Linked DNA regions of Homo sapiens: all the other regions are linked to region 3. Evidence: fine-mapped expression QTL. A gene starts in region 3. Each other region holds a variant in brackets. All regions are shown on one strand. Distances are from middle to middle. Region 1 has its middle 61 kb from the start of KLF13. Region 2 overlaps OTUD7A (OTU deubiquitinase 7A). Region 3 holds the start of OTUD7A (OTU deubiquitinase 7A).

Evidence for each region. PIP is the estimated chance that this variant, and not a neighbour inherited with it, causes the effect.
Region 1: its variant is the best candidate, but not a certain one, in a credible set for the expression of OTUD7A in whole blood (TOPMed, PIP 0.56).
Region 2: its variant is the best candidate, but not a certain one, in a credible set for the expression of OTUD7A in lung (GTEx, PIP 0.65).

What each region holds. Positions count from the first base shown.
Region 1 is chr15:31,385,592-31,389,940 of GRCh38, forward strand. It overlaps a transcript of KLF13 not described here. Among named protein-coding and RNA genes, the nearest start is that of KLF13, 61 kb to the left of the region's middle. The variant T/A (reference allele first, on the strand shown) is at 1,676.
Region 2 is chr15:31,496,954-31,501,302 of GRCh38, forward strand. The region is part of intron 10 of OTUD7A (OTU deubiquitinase 7A); the gene reads right to left. Among named protein-coding and RNA genes, the nearest start is that of KLF13, 170 kb to the left of the region's middle. The variant T/C (reference allele first, on the strand shown) is at 2,307.
Region 3 is chr15:31,869,115-31,873,114 of GRCh38, forward strand. It overlaps OTUD7A (OTU deubiquitinase 7A), which reads right to left and starts at 1,559. Exons shown (of 13, transcript NM_001382637.1): 1 at 1,393-1,559. RefSeq lists a silencer at 1,522-1,591.

The DNA of each region.
Region 1 (4,349 bases), 480 kb before region 3:
ATCAGTGATCTTTGATGTTACTCTTGTAATTGGAGTGCCATGAACCACTTCCATATAAGATGGCAAATTTAATTGATAAATGTGTGTGTTCTCACTGCTCCACCAACCTGCCTTTCCCTGTCTTTCTCCCTCTCCTCAGGCCTCCCTATTCCCTAAGACACAATATCGAAATTAGGCCAATTAATAACCTTACAATTGCCTCTAAGTGTTCAAGTGAAGGGAAGAGTCACAGGTCTCTCACTTTAAATCAAAAGCTAGAAATAGTTAAGCTAGTGAGGAAGCCATGTGAGGAAGTCTCAAAAGGTGAGGTAGGCTGTGCCAAGTAGTTAGCCACATTGTGAATGCAAAGGAAATGTTCTCGAAGGAACTTAAAAGTGTTAACTCCAGTGAATGCATGAATGATACGAAAGTGAAATGGGCTTATTGCTGATATGGAGAAAGTTTCAGTGGCTTGGATAGAAGATCAAACCAGCCACAACATTCCCTTTAGTCAAAGCCTAATTCAGAGCAAGGTCCCTAACTTTCTTTCAATTCTACAAAGGCTAAGAGAAGCTACAAAGCTAGAAAAGAAAAGTTGGAAGCTAGCAGAGGTTTATTCATGAGGTTTAAAGAAAGAAAGTATTAGGCTGGGCGCAGTGGCTCATGCCTGTAATCCTAGCATTTTGGGAGACCAAGGCAGGAGGATCACCTGAGGTCAGGAGTTTGAGACCAGCCTAGCTAACACGGTGAAACCCTGTTTCTACTAAAAGTACAAAAAATTAGCTGGGCGTGGTGGCGTGCACCTGTAATCCTAGCTACTTGAAAGGCTGAAGCAGGAGAATCACTTGAATCTGGGAGGCGGAGGTTGCAGTGAGCCGAGATCGTGCCATTGCACTCCACCTTGGGCAACAAGAATGAAACTCCATCTTAAAAAAAAAGAAAAGAAAAAAGAAAGAAGGCATCTCCACAACATAAAAGTGCAAGATGAAGCAGCAAGTGCTGCTATAGAAGCTGCAGCAAGTTATCCAGAAGATCTAGCCAAGATCATTGATGAAGGTGGCTTTACTACACAACAGATTTTCAATGTAAATGAAACTGACTCTATTTGAGGAAGATCCCATCTAGGACTTTCAAAGCTAGAGATAAGTCAATGGCTGGCTTTAAAGGACAGGCTGGCTCTCTTGTTAAAGGCTAACACAGTTGATGACTTTAAGTTAAAGCCAGTGCTAATTTACCATTCGGAAAATCCTGGGACCATTAAAAATACACTAAATCTACTCTGCCTATGCTCTAGAAATGGAAGAACAAAGCCTGGATGACAGCACGTCTATTTACAGCATGGTTTACTGAATATTTTTAAGCCCACTTTGAGATCTACTGCTCAGGAAAAAAGACTCCTTTCCGATGAAACTTGAATGAATGAGGAGTTGCTTCTTATGGATGAGCAAAAACAGTGGTTTCTTGAGATGGAATCTACTCCTTGTGAAGATGCTGTGAACATTGTTGAAATGACAGCAAAGGATTTAGAATATTCCATAAACTTAGTTGATAAAGCAGTGCCAGGGTTTGAGAGGACCGACTCCAATTTTGGAGGAAGTTTTACCGTGGGTAAAATGCTATCAGCATTGCACACTACAGAGAAGTCCATCACTAAAAGACTAGTCAATTGGGTGTGGCAAACTTCATTGTTGTCTTA[T/A]TTGAAGAAATTGCCACAGCCACCCAAACCTCAGCAACCACCACCCTGATCAGTCTGCAACCATCAACATTGAATCAAGACCTTCCAGCAGGAAAAAGACCAAAACTTGCTGAAGGCTTAGATGATTGTTAGCATTTGTTAGCAAAAAAAGTATTTTTAAATTAAGGTATGTACATTATTTTTATAGACAGAATGCTATTGCACACTTAATAGGCTACAGTATAGTTTAAACATAACTTTTATATGCACTGGGAAACCAAAAAATGTGTGTGACTCACTTTATTGTGATATTTGCTTTATTGCAGTGGTCTGGAACCAAACCCACAATATCTTTGAGGTCTGCCTGTACGAGAACTGGGTGGTGGGAAAAGTGGGGCTTGTTTTTCCTTTCTTTGTATTCACTGTAGGTGTGAAATGTTTGACAATTTGACAGTCTGTGACATGGTTCACAGATGTGGTTCCTGCATGTTATCAGGGCTTGGCCAGGTTCAGGCAGGCCTGCAGGCTGTCCCTACAACGGGCAGATTGAAGTGTGCACAGATGTCCGTGACAGGGCTGTGACCAGCCTGTGATCAGGCTGTGACCAGGTTGCTGCCTGGACCAGGCAGAGCTTTGTCCCATAATAGGGGTGCTGCCAGGGAGTCTGGCACCTGGAGCACAGCCACTGGCTTGGACATGAGCCATCAAACAGCATGGAATAAAAATAGAACTGCTTCAGCCGGAGAGGAGACAGGCTGAGCTCCTTGCTGGGAGGCCTTTAAAACAAGAACAGGTTTCATTGATCTGAGACTAGGTAAGGATGCTGCCACGAGTCAGGAAGGAGTCGAAGTCATCTGTCCTGGTACCTGGAAGTGCCTGAACATGATGGGCCTGGGTGGTTATTATTCTTCTCATCAGCTGGCACTGTAACTTTAGGTAAGCATTAGAAACTGTTTGTTTGTTTGATTGTTTGTTTGTTTTCCCTTCATGTCTAGGGTATAGAATGCATGCTCTGTGTACAGTTGGTGACAGTTGTAAAACTGAGAAAGTGCCAGTGAAAATGATTTTAAAAATGAAACAGAAAGGCTGGGTGTGGTGGCTCACGCCTGTAATCCCAGCACTTTGGGAGGCTGAGGAGGGCAGATCACCTGAGGTCAGGAGTTCAAGACCAGCCTGACCAACATGGAGAAACCCTGTCTCTCCATGTAAAAATACAAAATTAGCCGGGTGCGGTGGTGCGTGCCTATAATCCCTCTCAGCTACTCAGGAGGCTGAGGCAGGAGAATCGCTTGAACCCAGGAGGTGGAGGTTGCGGTGAGCCAAGATTTCAGCCTGAGTGACAAGAGCGAAACTCTGTCTCAAAAAAAAAAAAAAAAAGAAAAAGAAAACCAGTAAAATATGTTTATTTTATGGAGTATTGAGTCATGATGTTCAAGGACTTTGGAAGTAATTTGATTGTTGGTTTTATTTTTAAAATTCAGGAATTCTAATCATACATACGAACAAGGTTAAAAAATCCCAAAAAAAAAAAAAAAAAAAAACTAATGATAAGAATGTCTCTTTACCCATTCCCCCCACACACACCAGTTCTACCACCTTGGGATTAAACTTTTTTTTTTTTTTTAGGGGACTAAACTTTTTATCGCTTCTGTTTTTAATTTGTTTTTGTCGTTATTCCCTTCAGTGTTAATAAAATACTTGTCCTCCTACTTTGTGATTTATGAGTATTTGACAAAATACACTGGCTTCCTAATATGAAAGATGAATACCGTTGACCATTGAACAACATGGGTTTGAACTGCGTGGGTCCACTTCCATGTAAATTTTCTCTTGCCTCTGCCACCCCTGAGACAGCAAGATCAGCTTCTCCTCTTTCTTCTCCTCCTCAGCCTACTCAACATGAAGACAATGAGAATGAACGAACACCTTTATAATGATCCACTTCTACTTAATGAATACTAAATATATTCTTTCTTATAATTATTTTCTTAATAACATTTTCTTTTCTCTAGCTTACCATATTGTAAGAATGCAGAATATATCTCACATACAAAAGATGTGTTAATTATCTGTTCATGTGATCAGCAAGGCTTCTTCTCGTCAACAGGCTATCAGTAGTTAAATTTTTGAGGAGTCAAAAGTTTTATGTGGATTCTTGACTCAATGGGGGAGGGGATCAACGGTCCCAACCCCTATGTTGTTCAAGCATCAACTGTAATTACCTCCAGTCCCCTCTACCCTCTGCACCTTCTCCCTCCTCCCCCTGTGTTTACATTAGAGGAGTGTTTTAACTCTTCTGCAGATTCTCTCTGAAACTTTACATTAGCTCTTACTCCCCTATATTTACTACCATACCTTTGGTCTGCATCTTGACTCCCCTTCATGGAAGGTGGGAGTAGGATGGCCTCTGCTATCCACTCTCTCTAGGTCCCACAACACCATCCTCCTCAGCCTTTACTTTTGCAGCTTAGTCTATAGTAAAAGTGGAGCCCAGTGGATTCGAACTGCAACAGTGGGAGCCTCTACACCCCTAGGCAGTTGGGCATGTCACTGTTACATGTTACTCACTGCACAGCTAACCGCTGGGCCAGGGGCACATTTCTTTCTCTATGGGCCTAAAGTCATCAACACCACCACCACCGTCTCCAACCACACAAGGAAGATATTCTTAGCATCCAGAGCAAATGGGGCGAAC
Region 2 (4,349 bases), 370 kb before region 3:
CCAATAAAGGGATGGCCAACCTTGGTGTGATCATCTGTAAGCCTCGATCCTTGCAGTCTGCAGCCGTTTCAGAGCTCTCTGTTCACACCAGCATCTCCCCCTCCATCTGTAACCAGTGGACTCCCTCAGGGCTCCTGTGTGCTGCTCTCTAGGTTCCTTAAGTGGGACCCTTGGGGGAAGGCACTGAGGACACACTGAGGGTGCCCTGACCTCTGTGTGGCCCCTGGATATGCCTCAGAGGCTCACAGGCTGTTTGTATATATGAGGGAAAAACTATTTAAATAATTGACTTATATGTTAATTTTTTTTTTTTTGAGATGAAGTCTCACTCTGTCATCCAGGTTGGAGTGCAGTGACGCAAGCTTGGCTCACTGCAACCTCCACCTCCCAGGTTCAAGAGATTCTCCTGTCACAGCCTCCTGAGTAGCTGGGATTACAGGCACATGCTGCCATGCCCAGATAATTTTTTATATTTTAGTAGAGATGGGGTTTCACCATGTTGCCCAGACTGGTCTTGAACTCCTGAGCTCAGGCAACCCACCCACCTCGGCCTCCCAAAGTGCTGAGATTACAGGTGTGAGCCACTGTGCCTGGCCAATAAATATTAATTTTTAAGAAAAGAATAGCCACAGATGGCATTGACACCTTCCATGAAACAAAGCACCCCCTCCCTACCCTCTTCGACCCTGAAGGTTCCTGAGTCCTGGGTCTGAGACGCTATCTTATCCCAAGCAGGCTTTGACTTGGGGTACCACTTCCTGAGCCTCTTCTCTTGGAGATGCCACTCTCTTGGGCCAAGTCTTTGTGGAAGCCTCGCCATCCACCCTCCCAACCCTTCACTGGCTGCAACTATTCCCTGGGGATGGTTCCTCCTTTCTCAATTTCCCCCTCTGTAAAGTGGGGAAGAGGAAATGGGAAGGGTTAAATAGGTATTCCTGGAAAGGACCTAGAACAGCCCTTGAGCACAGGAAGCACCTGCAAATATATGAGCATGAAGGTGGGGTGCAGACCTAGGCAGCACCTGTATGCACCCAGCCCTTCCCAGTGCAACCTGCTGGCCAGGCCGAGAGCTAACATGTACACATGGGTATGCTCTGCACGGCTCTATATCCACCCAAAGGGAAGAGGAGCTGTGGAGATGGGCAAGGCTGTGCTTGGCTTGTTTGGGACTTTACCAAGAGTTAGCTGCCATTTTGGACTGTAGAGCCTCCTGGGGTATTTGAGGGTATGCTCAGCACACCTGTGTCCCCTCTCTGTGTAACTGGGCACCCCACATATGGGTGCCAGGATCTGATTGCTTCATTGAGTTTTGCAGTATGGCTGTGTGAGAATATTTACAGAAATGCAGATTATTTTATTACATTGGTTTCCTTTGATTTCTCCTGATGTGGGGGTACTAAATGGACTTTATTCCAACACAGGTAACATTATCCATGAATTTCATTTCAGGGTAATGAAGAGTACACTGGACAATGTTTGCTATAAAAGGAGGGGAGTTGGGATTGTTGCACTGGATGATTCCAAAGTTCTTTCCTAGGTTCTATGTTTCCAGGAACTATGCGGCACCTCTGCTTCTCCTGTTAATTGATTTGATTTTTCATAATGTACACATTTGCTCAGTGGCCAGTAGGAACTGACCTGAGCTGGGTGCTGAGAGAATGCCCAGATCTGGGTTTCACAGAGCTCCCCTGCAGGCCATTTTAAGATGTGGCTGCAAGGAGGCTGCTTCCTGCAAAAAGCTGAAGGCCCAAGGCTCAGGTTGTCAGGGAGCAAATGACTAATGTCCTCCCCAGGAGAAAGCAGGTGACCATCATGTGTGGAAGCTACCAAGAAAGAATGCATACATTTTATCTAAAAAGTCCTAAGATAAATTTGCAAAGCCTGGGCCACTGAGGTTGCCCATAGCTGACCAGTCCCACCAGCTCCTGACCTTCCACCTCAAGCCCTTCCCTCTCCCCATGTTGCATGCCTAGCCTGGGAAATGGGAGGATTCCTGAACTTGAAGATGGTCAGTGGCGGCATCAGCAGTAGCCGGGCCACGGCAGTAGCACCTATAAGAGGGGGCTTCCCTTAGAGGGAGAGGCACTCGATGAGAAGTTTAAAGAATGCTTCATGGATTTTTAAGCCTCCAGGAGCTGGACACATGTGGATGAGACATGATGGGGCATGTAAACAGAGGAGGAGGAAGTGGGTGGTGGGAAGAAGGGAGCCTTGTCTCAGCCTGAAATACATTTTTTATCTCATTTCCAGGCTCTCAAAGCATCGTTCCGCAGGCACAAGGATGCGGTGTCTGCTCTTCCTGGGGC[T/C]TGTGATTATTGTATCTATTAGCCTCTGTCACAGGGTGCTGTTTATAGGACGGACAGGGTACCATGGCAGAGGGTGACACCTGTGCTTCACAGTGGGGGCCGGTGGCATCCTGGGGCTCGATATTCTGGAGTCTCCCATCTCCTGCCTCCCACCAGGTCCTGCGACTTTGCGGTCTGGCCAGCTCACTCCAGCAGGCCTGAGTCTGCAGCTCATCCTGGAAGCTGCAGCCTCACTGTGATTTCCACGTCCCTCTCTGCTGAGATGTCGTGTGACTTGAGAGCACAGCTGGGACTCTGTCCCGTCCCCACAGTGTCCTTTGAGGCACAGAGGGAAGGCTGCAGAGGTGAAGGTCTAAGGGGGCACAAGGGTGCAGGTGACAAAGAGCGTGGCCATGGCACCTGCCCTGCAGTGGGTCGTGGGGACCTTATGGGTGAATGTGCAGCCTGGCCACAGGATGGTCTTAGAGGCAGGGACCTGCATCGCCCCAGGAGGATCCCAGTGGGCTGCTTTGACTGTGAGGGAGCCAAAGACCCACACCACAGTGGCTCTGAGAGGTGCACTGGGACCAGATCCCAGTTTTTAGAAACCAGGTCATCAGAAGTGAAACCACCCACAACTCTGCAAGGCCCTCCTGAAAGGTCCCAAGCCACAGCGCCCTCCATGGGCATCCTTTGAAGGGAGGATGCTTTCATATGTGCCTTGAAAACACCAAGCAGCAGTATCTGGAAGGCCTGGAAGAGTACTCGGTGCCTTTTGCGAGGAGGGGGTCGGGTATCTGAACCCCATGCTCGGAACTGGGAGACGCTGGCCTTGGGACCATCACCTTCTGACCACAGAATCTCCCTGGGGACTGGACAGAGGGCCCCGCCCCTGGCCGATCCCAGGTCCTGAAAAGGCCCTTCTGGTCTCCCAAGAGGCGGGGTCAGCCCTACGAAGAGCTAAATCCCCGGGAAGGAGGTGCAGGCATTCCGCATTCCGGATTGAAAGTGGGGAGACAATGGAAAGACCGGAGCACCTCCGAGGCCTTACTGATTAAATCTTTCCTTCTGTGGCCAGTGCCACATCTGCAAATAATAAAGAACCATGATGTGACATTCTTGTCACGGCCGGCTGTAGCCTCCAGTCGTCTCTCTTCCTGTGACTTGGGTTCTGCGGCTGCACCACGCATGTCAGCTCCTGGGAGCTCTGCATCTGCTCTTGGGAAGGGGTCTCAAATGCCCTGTGCATTTCTCACCTTCAGCTTCTGCTCCACAGCCCCAGCCTCATTCCCGACTCAACTGCCAGGCCAGGAAGTGACACGCTGGTGCCGCCTCTGGCGGAGGGCTGGGGGAGGCTGGGTTCTGTTCATTTGTCTGTGTCCTTTCCTTCCCAGCTGTCTACAGGAAGGAGTAGCATTTGGGAGTCCTAGGGGTGCAATCTTGTTGCTATATTTACTTCCTGAGCTGCACACTCAGTGGAAAAGGTCAGAAGCAGACACCCCTGAGCTTCCTTCCCCCTGTTGGCCCTGGACAGGGCACTTCCCATTCTCTGGGACCATACCTAATGGCAGGGACTCTGAAATAGTTGGTCTTGCCTGTCCGTCTGTCCCCTGGGGGAGTGAGTCTCTGCCTATACTACAAACAAGAATGACAACAGGAAGGGGTTTCCTCTCCACTCAGCTGGTCACACATCCATCAGTAGCTAACATGAGAAAACAGCAATTGTTCCAAACAAAATCCCCCTATTTCCCCAGTAAAGACATTGACTGGTGCCCTGGAATTGTGCAGTGCACAGCCTGTGGGCTGGCCCAACATCAGCAGCACTGAAATGGCTGCTTAGAGGAAACTCAGCTGCAATGCTTTGAAAGGAAATGTTGACCTTTTGAGTTAAAAGCTTACCCTGGAGCAGGGGTGAGCAAACTCTTCCCATAAATAGCTAATTAGTAAGTAAATATTTTAGGCGCTGCAGGCCTTGGTGTCTGTGGCTGCTCCTCTCTCTACCACTGTAGTGCAAAAACGGCCACAGATGATGCATCTGTGAATGAATGTGGCTCTGTTCCAATA
Region 3 (4,000 bases):
TTCCCATAAGAATTGGTACTAATGGCACACTCACAATAAAATAATGGAGTGTTGATCCCATTTAGTGGGGAATGTTTATCCAGAACTGAGTGTGCCGTGCAGATCTACCTCTGTTCTCGTGAACCCTCTTTGGGTCTTGAAGAGGCCTTTGAAGCTGGTGGGACACACGGCTGCTGGGAGGACCCTAGTGAACCTGCCTCCCCGCCTTCGCCCAGGGCAGGCTTCTCCGGGCACACCCTGGAGGAGGAGGAGGAGGATGGTGAAGGACACCTGCAGATTTTCCTGAAGCAATTAAGACCTGTAAAGATTTAGGCCCCGCTGTCAACCTTTTCCTGGACACATTATCTGCCTCATCATATTTTTAAAAATTGTTCCTCTTACAGCCCACTTCCATTTACAAAGGTATCACCTGGCGGTAACCATGTGCATGTCATACATGACTTTCCCCTGGATCCTTGTGCTGTGGATGAAGCGTTTCCCTGATCGGGGTCTCACAAGTTTCCCTTCAGCTACTCTTAAATCTATACATTCTCAAGCCAATAGACAGAAATAAAAGTCATTTGCACTTGTGTGAGGTAGCTGAGTTTACAGAGCAGAGGCAAATCCATTTTATTACAGAGATTCTCAAAGGGCTGCAATAGCTTCACCGGGAGGGAGGAGGGTACACTTGAGCGGTTGTGTCCAATGAAGGAAAGTTTTAGTTAATGATGACATCACTGACATCTCCCAAATTTAAAGGAGCACTTAAAGCACCGCAGATGCAATTTTTTCCCCTCCAGTGAGGAGATACTAGGGAAGGCCTCTGGGTTCACAGCCAAATTGCCTTAATGGTTTGCCTGCTGTCCAGCGAGACCCAGCAGAGCGAGCGGGACGGCGGTGCGCCGGGCCGCGGGGACCCACGCAGTCACAGCTCCGGTGCCCGGCGAGCGGCCTCGCGCGCGGCTCGGGGCCGGGCCCTGCCCGGCCGTCTGCAAGAGCCGCGGGACCCCCGACGCGCGCGCACGGACCGAGGGGTCGGTCGCCCCACGCCTGGCATCACGTTCCAGTGCGGACAGCCAAAGGGCTGAGCGGAGGCAGCAGCCCCGACCCAGCGGTAGCGCCGCGCCCTGCCCGAGAGAGGCGCGCCACGCCGGGCCGGAGCCGGTGGCCCGGGAGCCCGCGGGGTCCGGAGCGGAGCCCGCAATGCAGACGCGCCGGCGAGCCCAGCCGGGGCCCGCGCCCCCCGCGTCCCCGCGCCCCGGCCCCGCGGTCGCCCGGCCTCAACGCCCACCTGCCTCGCCACGGAGCTCGGGAAGGAGACGGCGCCGGCCCCGCGCCCGGAGAGCGCACCTGCCTGGTCCGCGGGCCCGGCCCCGCCGCCCGCCGGCAGCACCGCGGCCAGCGCCGTCTTACCTGCCGCGCCGCGCCGCTCCGCTCCGCCAGCCCGCAGCGCCGCAGTCGCCGCTACCCGACTTCCATTTTCTCTCGCTTTAAAGGAAAACCAGATCAGCTGTTTTGCTCCCGCTCGGGCTCCGCGGCCCCCTCCCCAGCTGCCGCTCGCGGTCCCGGTGGCCTCTCCTCCCCCGCCTCCTCCCGCGCTCCGCTCCGCCCCTCGCGCCCCTCCGCTCCGCCCGCGGCCGCGCACAACGCCCGCCTCCCGGCTCCGCCTGCTGCCTCCGGGCGCGCGCCCTCCTCTGACGTCACCGGTCGCGTTCGCGCCCCGCCCCCGCCCCGCGCGGACGTGCGCGCGCCGCGCCTGTGCCCCGCCCCCGCCCCTCCGGGGCCGGGCACGGAGAGCGCGTGCTCGCGGCCGCGAGCCGAGGAGGGGACGTACAGCGCCCGCGCGCCCGCGAGCCCGCTCCGGCTCTCCCATGCTTGCCCCTCGGGGTGCTCCTTCTGCGCTCTCCGCCTGGACTGCAGGAAAAGGCTGCTTAAACAGCCTGCCTTTTCCTGCTGCCTGACTCGCGCCATCTGCGGCCACCTGTCTCGTTTCTTCCCCCTGGCTGGCGCACCCTTCCTTCCTAAACATCCCAAACTTTCTCCCACCCAGGCTGTCCAGGCTGCAGTTTCTACGCCCTGCGCTGGGGCCTGTGCATCACGCCTAATCCAAAGCTGGTCCTTTTACCTCCCAAAAAGGTTCTCTGACCTTTTCCCATTTTTTGCCTTCCTCTAAAGACTTTTTCACGCCACCCCTTCAGATGGTTCCCCTCCCTGATGGCAAGACCTGCTCGCTGCTCTGGGCCCTTCTCACGTCACCCTGTAGATGTAGTCACGCTTCCTTATCCCAAACAGGACGTTATATTGCAGATGACCCATACCATCCTGGTGTACTTCTAAACAATCATTATTTTACTTTTAGTTTAGGACTTTTTGCTTGACTTTAAACATTGTATATGTTTAATAGTGTTTAATAATTTATTTGACTTTTAAAATTGATATTCAGTAAAATTGGTTATTTGATATATAATCCTGTGATCTTGAACCCTTGTTTGGATTCATGTAACCACTAGCGCAATAAAGAGCTCCCTAGTTCTGCCCTTTTATAACAGCGCCCCCGCCAACCCTAACTTTTGGTAACCACTGATAGGTTCTCCATTGCTACGGTTTTGTCTTTGTGAGTGTGTCGTATACATGGAATTACGCAATATGTAACATTTTGAAACTGACTTTATTCCCTCATCATTATACCTTGGAGATTCATCCATGTTATTGTGTATAGTAATAGTCCTTTTTATTGTTGAGGGGAGTCTCATTATTTGTACCACATTTTGTTTAGTCACCCACTGGAGAATATTTGCGTGGTTTCCAGTTTTTGGCGACTGTGAATAAACATTCTATAAACATTTGCATGCAGCGTTTTGTACGGACAAATTTTTTAAATTAGTTGACTAAATATCTAGGAGTGCAATTGCTAGATCTTATGGTAAATTTGTTTAACTTTATAAGAACCAAACAGTTTTCTAGAGTGGCTATAGCATTTTTATAACTGTCAGCAAATATGAATCCCTTTCCTTCATCCTCACCAGCACTTGATATTGGCTATCTTTATCTATCTATCTGTCCATCCATCCATCCATCCGTCTATCATCTATAATTTTAGACATTCTAGTAGGCATATAGTGCTATATCGTTGTTAATTTTCAATTTTCTACTGAAAAATTATGTGGAGCAACTTTTCATATGCACCTGTATATCTTCTTTGGTGAGATGTTTGTTCACATCTTTTGCCCATTAAAAAAAAAAGGTTGTTTTCTTATGGTTGAGTTTTAAGAGTTCTTTGTGTATTTTGGATAGAAGTACTTTATCTGATACGTGTTTTGCAGGTATTTTCTTCCAGTGGAAGCTTGTCTTTTCATTCTCTTAACAGTCCTGTCCTGAATTTAGGGGAAGTATCCAGTTTCTTACCACTAAATATGATGTTAGCAGTAGGATTTTTTTAGTTCTTCTTTATCAAGATTAGGAAGTTCTCTCTATTCCTAGTTTGCAGAGTTTTTATCATGAATGAATGTTGGATTTTGCCAAATTCGTTTTCTGCATCTATTGATACGGTCATGTGATTTTATTTTCTTTAGCTTGTTGATATGATGGGTTACATTGATTTTCAATTGATTTTCAAGGAACCGGTCTTGCATACTTGGGTCAAATTCTACTTGGGCATGGTATATAATTGTTTTTATACACCATTGTATTCAATATGCTAATATTTTGTTGAAGACTTTTGCATCTATGTTCATGAGAAATATTTGGCTATAGTTTTCTTTTTTGTAATGTCTTTAATTTATTTTGGTATGCCGGTAATGCTGGCCTCATAAAATGAGTTAAGAAGTAATATTTACTTGTATTTTCTGTAAGAAATTGTAAAGAACCTATATCAATTCTTCCATAAATGTTTGGTAAAATTCCCTGGTGAAACCATCTGAATCTGGTGATTTTTTTGAGACTTCATTAATTATTGATTCTTTGTGGATACAGAGCTATTAGGTGATCTGTTTGCTTTTCTGTAAAATGTAGTTGTATCATT